Linked DNA regions of Homo sapiens: regions 2 and 3 are each linked to region 1. Evidence: fine-mapped expression QTL. A gene starts in region 1. Each other region holds a variant in brackets. All regions are shown on one strand. Distances are between the middles of the regions. Region 1 holds the start of TRIB1 (tribbles pseudokinase 1). Region 2 overlaps LINC02964 (long intergenic non-protein coding RNA 2964). Region 3 holds the start of TRIB1AL (TRIB1 associated lncRNA).

What was found. PIP is the estimated chance that this variant, and not a neighbour inherited with it, causes the effect.
Region 2: its variant is the best candidate, but not a certain one, in a credible set for the expression of TRIB1 in thyroid (GTEx, PIP 0.62).
Region 3: its variant is the best candidate, but not a certain one, in a credible set for the expression of TRIB1 in whole blood (INTERVAL, PIP 0.86).

The regions. Positions count from the first base shown.
Region 1 is chr8:125,428,406-125,432,643 of GRCh38, reverse strand. It overlaps TRIB1 (tribbles pseudokinase 1), which reads right to left and starts at 2,286. Exons shown (of 3, transcript NM_025195.4): 1 at 1,382-2,286. The coding sequence starts at 1,741. RefSeq lists enhancers at 524-613, 2,084-2,133 and silencers at 1,424-1,763, 2,494-3,113.
Region 2 is chr8:125,606,108-125,610,345 of GRCh38, reverse strand. LINC02964 (long intergenic non-protein coding RNA 2964) reads right to left here. Exons shown (of 7, transcript XR_001746072.2): 3 at 899-1,443. Among named protein-coding and RNA genes, the nearest start is that of LINC02964, 88 kb to the right of the region's middle. RefSeq lists enhancers at 1,946-2,325, 4,199-4,238. The variant C/G (reference allele first, on the strand shown) is at 2,161.
Region 3 is chr8:125,465,531-125,469,768 of GRCh38, reverse strand. TRIB1AL (TRIB1 associated lncRNA) reads right to left here and starts at 2,964. Exons shown (of 4, transcript NR_186610.1): 1 at 2,736-2,964. The variant A/T (reference allele first, on the strand shown) is at 2,104.

The sequences.
Region 1 (4,238 bases):
TGTTTGTTTATCCCCCCACACCCGACCCCACCCCTAGAAATGAGTAGCATCTCCTCTCTTCTAGGAAGCTGGCTGGTCTCTTTAAAGGCCTTTTGTTCAGTCCAGTTACTCATATCCTAGACTCAACTGGAAACGGTGACACACGGGCTGTCACCATCTGGATTCAGCTATTATCTGCTCAGAGGAACTGGAAGGGGTTGCACAATGGCCAGACTCACCCCACCTCTAAGAGGCCTGGCTGCTCTGGCACCAGCTAGAAAAATCCCCTGCTGCCCCCTCCTCCCACCCCATCCCATCCCATCCCACCACACACACATACATGCTTGTCCCAGAACAGCTCTTAGCCCCAGTCATGGAGAAGAAAAGGTTTTTTTTTCCTCCCTATTAAACTGGGCTTGATCATGCGTCTGAAATTTCATTCGGGTTGGGCAGTAGGTGGCAGCAGCGAGCCCCGGGACGGGGTCGGGGTGTTGGGAGTGTCAGGTGAGTTGCGGAAAACCCAGAAGCGACTTAACTGGGGGGTGATCCTATCTTTCGGGTGAAAAGGAGCGGCCCGAGGGTGCTCTGGGGTGCCTCAAGCAGGGGTGCCACGCTCGCATAAAGTAGACTGTGGGAACGTTCTGCGTCTACCCGCGCAGGAGGAGGACCCGGCGGATCCTGTTTCTAGGAGCTGTGTCTCCTCCTCCTGGATGGGATCCCTATGTTCAAAGGAAAATCGCTGGCTGGAAAATAAAGTGAATCGAAGCGAGGGTTCCTGGCCGGTGTGGGCTTTTCAACATTTCTACTCCGAGCAGATTCCTCCGCCTCGGGTGGATGACTCTGGGACTGCTCCCTTGGGAGGGCGTGTTCTAGTCTCAGCGCGGATTCAATTCGGAATCCCCAAGGCAGGAGCCGGACACAGTCTTCCAGCCCCCTTACCACCTACAACTGAGCCCGGGTGCCGTGCAAGCCCGGCAAGAGAGCTGCCAGCTGCTCCAAGCTCCTAGGAGGCACCCACTAAAGGGCGTCCTTCCAGGACATTGGCGGGGGAGGGGGGGTGGAGAGCGAGGAGAATGAGAGAAGGGGAATGGCATGGCCCTGGAATCCATTTCAATTCCACAACTTATATGGAACGCCACGCGCTACACTGGGCGCTGAGGAAAGGAACAGATAGAGAAAGCCACTGAACACTGCACTTCCTCTAGGCGCCCCCATTATATCACTCCATGGGAAACCCCTCGATCCACAAAAACGTGAACCTGGTCAAATGGCGTCTTATCTGACCCAATCTACTGATCCGCCCTGTGCCCAGCCCAAGCGTTGGCCGGACCCCAAGCACCTTTGCCTACCACCCCGTCCCGCGCCCCCGACCCCAGCCGGGTCCTGGCCCGGGAGCGCCTACCTTGCAGCGCAGCTCGCGTCCAGTGTGGATGCACAGCGCCCGGGACACATGCTCGCGCTCGGCTAGGGGCAGCAGCAGGTAGTCGGCGATGCGGCTGGGCCCCGGCGCGCTCCCGGAGCCTCCGCCGGCCCCCGGAGCGGCAGGCGGGGGCTGCGGGCTGCAGGGCGAGCCGGGGGGGCTGAGGTAGTCCGGGGGGCTGGAGCACTCGGAGAGGCGCGGGCACTTGGCCGCCACAGCCGCCGCGTCGTCGGCGTCCAGCAGGCGTTTGGCCGGGACGCCTCGGGTGGCTGGGAAGAGCAGGGCCGGGCCGCGGGGCTGCGAGGCGCCGCTCATGGCAGAGCGCACCGGACCGACCCGCATCCCGTCCTGGGCCGGGGTGGCCCCGGCTTTTTAAGTCCCGGGATCCGCGCGGGAAGACGCTGCGGGTTTGGTGCCGGCTCCGCGACTTCTTCCAGCCGGCGGGATGGAGTTTGCAGACTGGTCTTGGCTCGGCCCCCACGAGGGGCAAAGCAGGAGCCACTCCCCGGCGCTCGCGTTGCACGCGGGGACCACGCTGGCTGTGCGTCCGGGAGGCGGAGGCCGGCTCGAGTCCCCGGACCCCCGCAGGCAAGGGCTCCCGGAGCCTCGCTGGGGGCGGCCGCCACTATTGTTGCCGAGGCTGCCGATAGTCCGGGAGGCAGAGGCGGCGGCGGCAGCGGTCAGCGATCCCGGGGTCCCGAGCCGCGAGGACAGGATTCAGCAGGCTCGGCGGAGCCACGAAGCAAATGCACTTCCCAAAGCGATGAGTCTCCAGCAAAAGCCGGGGGAACTTTTTCGCGGCGCTCGGGATCCTGAGCGCTCCTGGGCTCCGGGCGTGTATGAGAGCGAGCGAGACGCGCTCAGAGAGAGTGACTGTGAGTGAGTGTGAGCGCTGCACCGATCCCGGCCAGTGCACTCCTCCTTCTCCTTTTCCTCCACCTCCTCCGCCTCCTGGTGACTCACGCTGTATACACACACACTCACAGGCCGGGCTGTGTAAACAGTTGGGAAGCCGGGTTGTGCAATGAGGTGGCTGCGACGACTCCGGCCCCGCCGCCCAGCGAGCAGTCTCCGGAGCGGAGGGAGGAGACTGGGGGAAGGGGAGAGGGAGTAGGAGGTGGGGGGAATGGGGGTGGACTTAGGGCTGGGGATGCTCCGGGCAGCGCGCGCTCGGGCGCAGGTGGTGCGTCCCGGGCCGGCCTGGACGCGCGCACACGCCCCCAGGGCTGGGAGGGGCTGGGCAGGAGGCGGCGCGCGCGCCCTCCCGCAGGCCCCCAGCTCAGCGGAGAAGCCGAAGGAGGGGGCGGAGGAAAAGTTCCCGTGACGTAAGGGCCCGGGGAAGTGGGCGGGAGGGACGGGGCTGCGGGGAGCGAAGCGACCGCTGATTGGTGCGCGCGCCTCATTCACAGTAAGCACAATGGGCTGCGGGCGCGAGGCGGGAGCGCGCACCACGGTTCTCTGCACCCGCCGCTCGCTGCAGCCCCGCGGCGACGCCTTTCGCCCCGGGGATCCCCCCACCGCCCAGCGCCTGGGGAGCTCCGGTTGGAGCCGTGGGCGCCGCCGAGGCCCGGCTGCAGCCGGAGGAAGGAGGGGGATAGGGAGGTGATGAATTCCAGAATCAGTCATTCACCCCCACGCGGTAGTTCCGGGGAAGACCTGTGCGTGGTAGTGGATGTGGCTTTTTTTTTTCCCTTTTCCTGCCCCCTCCCAGCTCTAATCCCCAGCGTCTGTTCGCTTCCACAAATAGAACCTTCTGTTGGAGGAAATAAAAGCAAACACTGGGCCTTCTGCGCTGCCTCCACCTCCACGCCCCCCCAACCCCCCCGCGCCTGCCGCCCGCCCGGATTGCACGGAAATAGCTTCTCCAGGCTCCCGGGCCGCCCCTTCGCGGTGACTCGCAGAAAGAGCTTCCTGAGCCAGGGCCGGTGGGAAACAAAGGATGTGGGGAGCGGGCGGAAGGGGCCCACGTGGCTGCCGCCGGATTCCTACTCCCTCCCCAGCCTCCACACGCGCCGCAGGGTCTAGGGCCTGAGTGCCAACCTGGGTAGGTGGGTAGGCTGGTGGAAGTCATTCTGGCCACTGCCAGAGATACCGCCTGCACCCGGGCAGCCCTGCCTGGTGGTGCGCATGCATTCATTCCGTGTGATTTGGAAGAGCATCAAAGTTGCGCGTGAAACAACTTGGAATCTGTCATTTTTCTTTCTTGAGTGAACCAGGTCAGTTTGGAGTCCCTGGGCACCCAACAATATAACTATTATTAGAGAGCCCTTACTTGTCCTTCTGCTAAATACTTAATTTTCTAAAACCAGGTCGAGCCCCAGGAATAAATCATTTTCCTTATTAATTCTCCATTCATTCAACAAATACTAATTAAGCATCTACCAAGAGCTAAACGCTGGGAATTAGAAGGTGAAAATTAAAATAATAATAATAGCTAACATGAATCGAGGCCTACAATGTGTCGGACACTGTTCTTAGCACTTTATATGTATTACTTCAGTTTTCCAACCACACTATGGGGTTATTTTTTGCCCCATTTCACAGGGAAGAAACTGAAGCCTTAGAAGGATGAAGTTAGGCCAAGCGTGGTGGCTCACGCCTGTAATCCCAGCACTTTGGGAGGCTGAGGTGGGCAGATCACCTGAGGTCAGGAGTTCAAGACCAATCTGGCCAACATGGTGAAACCCCGTCTCTACTACAAGTACAAAAATTAGCTGGGTGTGGTGGCGCGCGCCTGTAATCCCAGCTGCTGGGGAGGCTGAGGTGGGAGAATCACTTGAACCTGGGAGACAGAGGTTGCAGTGAGCCGAGATCGTGCCACTGCACTCCAGCCTTGGGG
Region 2 (4,238 bases), 180 kb before region 1:
TAGGAAGTCACATTGCAAAGGGTGTGGGTACAACACAGTCCAAAATATTGTGGCCATTTCTACAATCCTCCATCACGGCCAGTTGTATTTGTATGTATGTATCTGTTACACGTCTGCCTCCCTCTTGTTAGACTGTAAGCCCCTTGAAGATGGGTTTCTATATCCTATTCATCATTGTATCTCCAGTTCCTATAGTACCTGGAACAGGAAACAGTCGATTTTAACTCCTGAAGAGCTCACAAATCCATCTATGTCCAGCACCACCACCTCTACCTGGGTCCCACGTATTGGCAGCTCTTGCCCAGCCCACATCTATAGCCTTCTGACTTGTCTCTTTGCCACCACTCTAACCTCCTTCCAATCCAGTCTCAACTCAACAGCCAGAGGGATCTTTTACAAATACAAACTAAATAATATGAATACCTCATCCCTACCACTTCAAATTAGAATTCTCTAGTGGATTCCCTGCCCCCTATCATTCAACCCCGCTCTCCTAAAATGACCCCTGGCCCCTCTAACCCCATCTCACATGTCCTTCCCCCTTGCCCTCTGCATGCTCACCCAACTAAAATGTCAGTTCCCCCATAGGGCCTTTGCACTCGCTGTTCCCATTGCCTGGAATGCTCTTCCATCCTCACTTCACTAGCTCACTGTCACTGCCTTTCAGAACGCAACTCAGACATCACTTTTAAGTGGCTTGAGGAAGCCTTCCCTGACTCCCAAGTTGAGATCATTTTTTTCTTTATTACTCAGTTTCCCCAAAGCTGGATTTGCTTCCTTCAGATAACTTATCTCAGTGTGTAGCTGCACATTCATGACCGTGACTCTGATTACTATCAGTCTTCCCTGCTGGACTCCAAACGTTAGGAGCTCCTGGGCTATGTCTGCTTGGACTCACCATTGCATCCCCAGCAGCTGGCACAGGAGGAGCACTCAGAACAAGTACCCAGTAAGTACACAGGGAATCCAGAATAAATATATCAATAGGAATATTGATTATCCCAATGTTTGTGGAATCCTATAGGGGCTCCAGTGCTTTGTCAGCCCCCCCAGATCCCCCTTGCTGAGGCGGTGATTAATTACCACGTCTTGGAAATAAGTTCACATAAATCAGAGCGGAAGAATAAGTCAGATGCAGAAGAGCACCCAGCATCTTGCAGGGCAGGTTGGAGCCTCCACCAATATAGGGCAATTGGGCAAAAAGGGAAGCCTAGGGACACGGACACTCCTGTCATGATTCTGCTCAGTGTCGGTCCCAGGCAGCATCTAGCAAGACACTGGGGGTCAACAATAGCAAGAAAGTCCAAGAATTTTGGCATACAGAACCAACATGGCACAGCCAGGAGCAATCCAGAATTGGCATCGGAAGCCCTGGTTCAACCTCCAGCTCTGCGTCTTTACTGGATTTGGGAAAAATAACCTCTCTGTGTCCTGTTTCATCATCTGTAAAATAAAAACAAAAATAAATCCTTCTCAGCATAAATATAAAACCCTAAATGAGTTTACATGAAAGGATGTTGCAATAAGAGCTAACACTCAGGGTGTGCCAGAAGTGGCTCTAAACATTTCATAGGCTTTAGCTCATTGAATTCCCACCGCATCTTTATAAGGCAGGTCCTACTACTATCCCCATTTCACAGATGAGGAACCCAAGGCTCAGAAATCTCAGAAACTTTCCCAAGGTTAAGTTTCCCAAGAAATCTCAGAAACTTTCCTGCTAGGAGGATCTGGATCTGGGGCTTGAGTTCATGCTCTTTTGTTCCAGAGCCCGTGCTTACTCAAGGACACTCAACAAACCCCAAGGTGATGTTATGGTTAAGGCTCTCAGCCCTCCCCAGGGTCACGCATGCCTCCCCCTTCCTTCCTGTTGCACTTGCCTAGCTAAACGGCAAAACAGAGGCCTGTGTCCTGTGCTTGGCTCTGCCATTTCCTCTCCACCTGACCTTGAGCTAGCAAGGCTACCTTTCTGAAACCCAGGGTACCCCTTTCCATAAGATGGATCTACTAATCCACACCACGTTCACAGGATCATCATGGGGAATAACAGACACGGTCGTAATAGCACATTGTAAGTTGCCAAGCAACATTGAACTTGAAGGGACTCCAGGGCAGGGCACTGCCAGGCTTGAAGAATGTGGACACTAAAGGGCCCAAGTGCCC[C/G]TTGGGGAAGAGCTCTTACAGAGCAGGCTGCCCCCGCCCAGAGGCCACCTTGTTTACGCAATGATCAACTCATTCTGAAACCCAAGAGGCTGCCATCTGCCCTCAGAGCAGGCCCAGACGCTGCTTTCCTGTTTGCTTCATTGGCTTCAGATCGGGGTGTTTTTTTTTTTTATTTGAAAAAAAAAAAAAAAAGCTTTTGGCAGGAGATGTCCCTAAAATTTTAAGTGGTTTGTTTTTCTTTTTTCCCTGCTCCCCCAGCCCAAAGCCTACCCCTGAGTTTTTCCTTCTTTGATTGCATGTAACCTCAAACAATGGCATCATTTACAGACTCCAAGCAGCCTCCTGCCATGGGTCCCACGCTGAGCTCTGCTTTCTAAATCATTGGCTGCTGTCACCCTGAGTCTGAAACCGCAGCTCTCCTTTGAGGTTGGGTCATGTGGCATCTGAGGGCTCCATAGTCTTGGAGTGCCAGTGTAAGCTGACCAGGATTCTGATTTTGTATTTTAAACTCAACCGTTGTTATTCAGTGCTGGTGGCACTTCTTCCCCTCTCTTCCCAATGTGTCTCCAAGGTTCTCAGCATTCTGTTCAATGGGTCTAACCCTCACACTCCTGACTGTTTCCCGGGAGACTTGATAATAGGGCTGGCCAATGTCTGCCGCACTTAGAGGTGTAGAGAGCCAGGGTCAAGGAGGATATTGACATGTATAGTATGTGGTTTCTGCCCTCCTGAATTCCCCAGACTAATCAGGACACTTCATGTTAAGACAATAATTTTGGAGAAGCACATTAGAGTCTATCAGTCATTTACATTAGAGTATGAATTGGCCTTTTTGGCAGATCCAAAAGCATTTGTTGTGAGATGGTGAAGAGGAAGATAACACTTTGCAAGACAAAACACCACAGAAAGTAAAACGGGATAGAAATAGAGGGTGGGCACACACTGAAAATGAACTTCACTTTTGTCCTTGAAGTTGCCTTGTGCTAGAACCATGCCAATGCTTTATTCCAAAAGGAAGTTAACTTCTAAGAGACTACCACACTGTTTATGAGATTTATTCCTGATTTACTTTATTTAACACATTTTATATAGTGCTTCTATGTGTTTAGGGATTAGTCAAATACAGACGAATTTAATCCTCACAACATCATTAGATAAGTTTTATTAGAATCTTATCTTAAAGATGAGGAAACTGAGGCACAGAAAAATAGTTTGCCCAAAGTCACGCAGCTTCTCAGTGACAGAGTTGGAACTCACATGCAGACAGTCTGGCTCCAAAATCCATGCTACGAATTTCTGTATTGTAATAGCAAAAGGATACAAAGCCATTTGTATGATTTTATCCTTTTTGGACCAGTAAATGAATAAACTCCTGTGATGAGTAAACCGTTTTCAACAATCAGCTTAAAGAAACCTCAACTTAAAAAGCATTACCAAGACTGTCAGAACCAGTAATCTGAGGCTGACTTATGAACTTGATGACAACATTCTTTAATTCACCTTTTTGACTCATTCAATAAGTATTACATGAAGCACCTCCTATGCCTGGGGCCAGTCACTGAGGATACAATTGTTCACAAGACAGACCTGGTCCTTCCGGCCTAAGGCGCACCGTCTGAATAGCAGTTGGAGCCCCAGCAGGGGTTGCTGGTGCATTCAGGAGTCAGGTGGCAGGTGTGGGCCAGCTCCTGTGGGAGGACAAGCTGCACCTAACTCAGACCAGGGGACTGGGGGCAGGTTCAGAGCAGTGACATCTAAGCTGAGGCCTGACAAAGGAGGAAGATTCAGTCAGATGCCAAGGCAGGGGGAGAATGAACCAGGAAGTGGAAAGAGCACGTGCAAAGTCCCAGAGGTGCCAAACAGCCTGGGCTGCAAGAAAAACAGAAAGTTGAGTGAGGCTGATGTGCAGAATGTGGGCAGGTGATCAGTGGAGGCTAAAGATGGCCTGACATCAGGGCTGGATGCCATTGGTCTATGTGGACCCTGATACAGATATTAGATTTCTGCCGGTGTCAAAGAGAAGTGGGTCGGGGAAGCCTGAGACTCTGATATAACATCACGTGACAGATAACAGTCCC
Region 3 (4,238 bases), 37 kb before region 1:
GGCTGCAGTGAGCCATGATCATGCCACTGCACTCCAGCCTGGGTGACAGAGCCCAGCATTGAAGATGAGGTGACAGCTAAAGAAGATGAAAAGAAATGGCTGGAGGAAGAGAAGGGAGGGGAGGTGACTTGGGGGCCCCAAGGAGTCTCAGGGAAAATATGGAAGCCATGAGGAGCATCAGGAAGAGAAGACCTAGCCATGCTGGGGTGCTTGGCCTTTGGGAGGTCAGTTATTGCTGAGAAGTGGTGGAGAACAAAGCCACGTTGATGCAGGTGGATGAATGCATTACAAATGAAGGGAAAAAAAAGGAAGTACAGTAAAAAGCCAAAGCCAGTGGAGTCAAGTGATAGCATCAAGACAGGGAACATCTTGGTATATTAAACAGTCACAGGAAGGAGTGGGAGAAAATAAGTCCAGAGAGGAACAGAAAGAAGTCAGAAGCCAGGAGCTGCACTGGGTCAGTGGATGGAAGCCAGCGCCCAGCCCACAGTGGTGTTTGGTGAAACCCTTCACAGGGGGCCACCAACACGGAATGTGCTCGGAGAACTTTGACTCATGAGTGATAGAGAGCAAGGGCAGAGAAGTGAACAGCCCTGCTGACACTGTGACACAGTGCTAGGAGGTGGCCAAGGGAGATCGGTGTGATAAATGGGATTTCACCCAAAGTTCCAGGGTCTAGAAATGTGCTAAGGGCAGGGCGGGGTACAGGGGAGTTGGGGAATCACTGCATTTGGCCATGGGAGGCTCAGAAGGAGGTGAGGATGAAGTCCAAGTAGGAGCTTGGACGTGATCTCAATTCTTCCCTAAAATGTGGGAGTCCTCATCAGCCATTGAGGGTAGCAGTAAGGAAGAGCAGAGAATTCAAGATCTGAAGAGAAATTCTAGTCTTTTGAAATTCCATGGTCACAGTAGTTTTGCCTAATATTTGTCTTAATCCTTTGCAAAGTGCTTTCACTGACAGTTGTGTTCATTTGGGAACAATTAGTCCCCTTCTACAGAATTGGGGGAAACTGAGGTTTAGAAAAGTTCAGTGGCTTACTCAAGATCATACAGCTGGAAATGGCACAGCTGGGACTGAAATTCATGTTTCTGTGATTCAAGGTCCAACCCTGTCTCCCCGACCCAGGGAGCTGTTAAAATCAACCCGACTATCCATTTCTTAGGCACCCCTGTGTGCTAGACACCATGCTAAGGCATTGCCGGTGAATTTCACACTAGCAGACATGTTTGTTGTTTGCCCAACACCTGCTACACTCTCCTGATTTTACTTACTCAAAACAGCCCAGAACTGGAAATCATTCACATGTCCATCAGCAGGTGAATGGAGAAGCAAATTGTGATGTCTCCATACAGTGGAATGTTACTCAGAAATAAAAAGGAACCATTTGCTGGTATACACAAACACATGGATGCATCTCAGAAGATGCGAATATACACAAAAACATGAGTGCATCTCAAAAGATGCTAGTATACACAAAAACATGGGTGCATCTCAAAAATATCACTTGGCATAATGCATCCATGTCTTTGGATGCATCTCCAAAGATCACATACGTAGGCTTCCATTTCTATGAAACTGTAGAAGCAGGTAAATCTAATATGTAGTAGCCGAAAACAGATTAGTGGCACCTGAGATCAGGGTAGGGTGGTGAATTGACTGAGAAAGGATACAAGGGAAATTTGAAGTGATAGAAATGTATCCTATGGCATTATGGTGGTGGTTACATGGGTACACACATCAAACTGTATATGTGAAATTGATGCATTTTATTTTTGAAAATTATACTTCATTAAAGAAGACGATGCAAGGGCCGGGTGCAGTGGCTCACGCCTGTAATCCCAACACTTTGGGAGGCCGAGAATGGTGGATCATGAGGTCAGGAGATGGAGATCATCCTGGCCAACATGGTGAAACCCCGTCTCTACTAAAAAATACAAAAAATTAGCTGGGCGTGGTGGCACATGCCTGTAGTCCCAGCTGCTCGGAAGGCTGAGGCAGGGGAATCACTTGAACCCAGGAGGCGGAGGTTGCAGTGAGCCGAGATCGCGCCACTGCAATCCAGCCTGGGCGACAGAGCAAGACTCCGTCTCAAATAAATAAAT[A/T]AATTAATTAATTAATAAGACAATGCAAAAAATAATTTTAGCATTTGAGATGAATCACAGAGATGAATATAATACAAATATATATTAATAAAGAAATGGAGGAAAGAAAGGCTGAACTTAACATGAAGCCAGAGACAAAGTGAATTCACAAAGCCTACATCGATTGCTTAATTGAGGGAAACTACAAATTGGGCTCTGAGCTTCCCAGAAGCCAAAGCAAAAAAAAGGAAAAGAAATATTCACAATCTTTCATACGTATGAAAAAGAAAATAACAGTGTTCATAAAATTGGATCATAGAGATATGGCTTGTAAGTATTATGAGAACACACAGAAGGAAGTGACTAACTCTGTTTAGGAAAGTGAGGAAATGCTACAGAGATAAGGATTTAAAAAAAAAAAAGGCCAAACAAACAAAAAAACAGTGAATGCTGACTTCAGGGAGGTTGAATGTGAAAGGGGTGGGATTGAGCCACTGAATGGGAAACAATCAGCTGAGCTCATGTCCTAGATGTCCTTCAGCTCTAAAGAGGTGAGATCAGAGGCCGTGGTCTCAGAAGCAGGAAGGAGGCTGGGGCCCAAGGAGGGAACTGTCGTCCCACAGCCAGGAGAGGCATTTAACATATTTACTCACCAGTTTGCCATGGATCTATCCAAATCAGCATCAGACCCCAGCTGGACCATGTCTGGAAGGCCCTTGTCATGTGGGTATTAAATCTTTCACTGTTGGATCATGGGGAGGTGAAGGTCCCAGCGGGTAGGAGCCGTTGGGGAGGTGAAGGGAGTTACTAACCCATAAAGAGCATGTTAGTATTTCAGTAACAATCCAGGCAGATCGCGCCCAGCTATCAGCTGTGGCTCACCCCTGCCCATACCTATGACCTCTCCGCCCAGCTGCCTTCCACAGTCCAAGTCATGCCTGATTATCACCAGCTAATGAGAATTCCTGGCCTTGGTCTACTGCCCACACTCAGGAATTCGCTATTCATGAGAAATGTCAGCTTTACGAAAGTGGGCCCTGTGTGTCAGCTCTTTTTCCCACATTCAGGGTTTACAGCTGACAGTAGTTTGTTTCACATGATTTGCTGATGGGGGAAGAGGCCGTAATCCAGGAAACTGCTCTGGCAAATCACCCCTGGGCCAACAGAGTATTCTGGAACATTCTTTTTATGTTTCCCCTTAGAAATCATTTGGAAAGGGAAGTGTTGAGATTTAAACAAGGCTAGAGAGGAAGATTTCATGCCTGAGGGAATAATGGAGCCAAATGCTGAAGCTGCCACACCTCAGCTTCAGCGATTCTCCTGCCTCAGTCTCCCAAGTAGCTGGGATTACAGGCACCTGCCACCACGCTCCACTAATTTTTGTATTTTTAGTAGAGATGGGGTTTCACTATGTTGGCCAGGTTGGTCTTGAACTCCTGACCTCAGGTGATCTGCCCGCCTTGGCCTCCCAAAGTGCTAGGATTACAGGCATGAGCCACTGCACCTGGCCTCACATGACTTTCTTCTTTTCCTCCTAATCAGACCTCTGGACCAAGAGTTGACAAATTTCATAAATGATGACAAAGGCAGCCTATGGAACGATGACATTCTAGGGTACCAGCCTGGGAAGAAATATCTTAGAATGCAAACTTCCTCAAACACAGGGACCCTGGATTTTAGGTGTTTGACTTGGTGATCTCTGAATGGGGCTGAGCACAGGAAATACTAAAGAGCTACAAATACTCAGAGAGAACAGGAAGGGCTGAGCTCCCGTTGGCCACTTGACATAGTGCCAGCTTTCTTCAGGGTCCTACTCCACCCCTGCCAAGTTTCCAGTGAACCACAACATCATAGAATCAATTACATTCTCGCGACTGTTAATATGGCACCGTGAGGTTCACACAGGCTCTCAACCAAGCCTTTCACCACCCCAGCAAGGAAAATTCAGAACGCTTTACTGAGACTGGGAAACTGATGCCCAGAAAGAGGCCCCAAGACACACAGTTAGTCAAGGGGAAAACAGGCTAGCAGTCAACAGTTTGGTCTTGCAGTCAGAAGAATCTGCATTGAAATCCTTACTGGCTCCCCTCAGTTTGTTACCTTACTGTCTGAGTTTGTTTCCTCCTCTGCAATACGGTACATGCTTCCGGAACAAG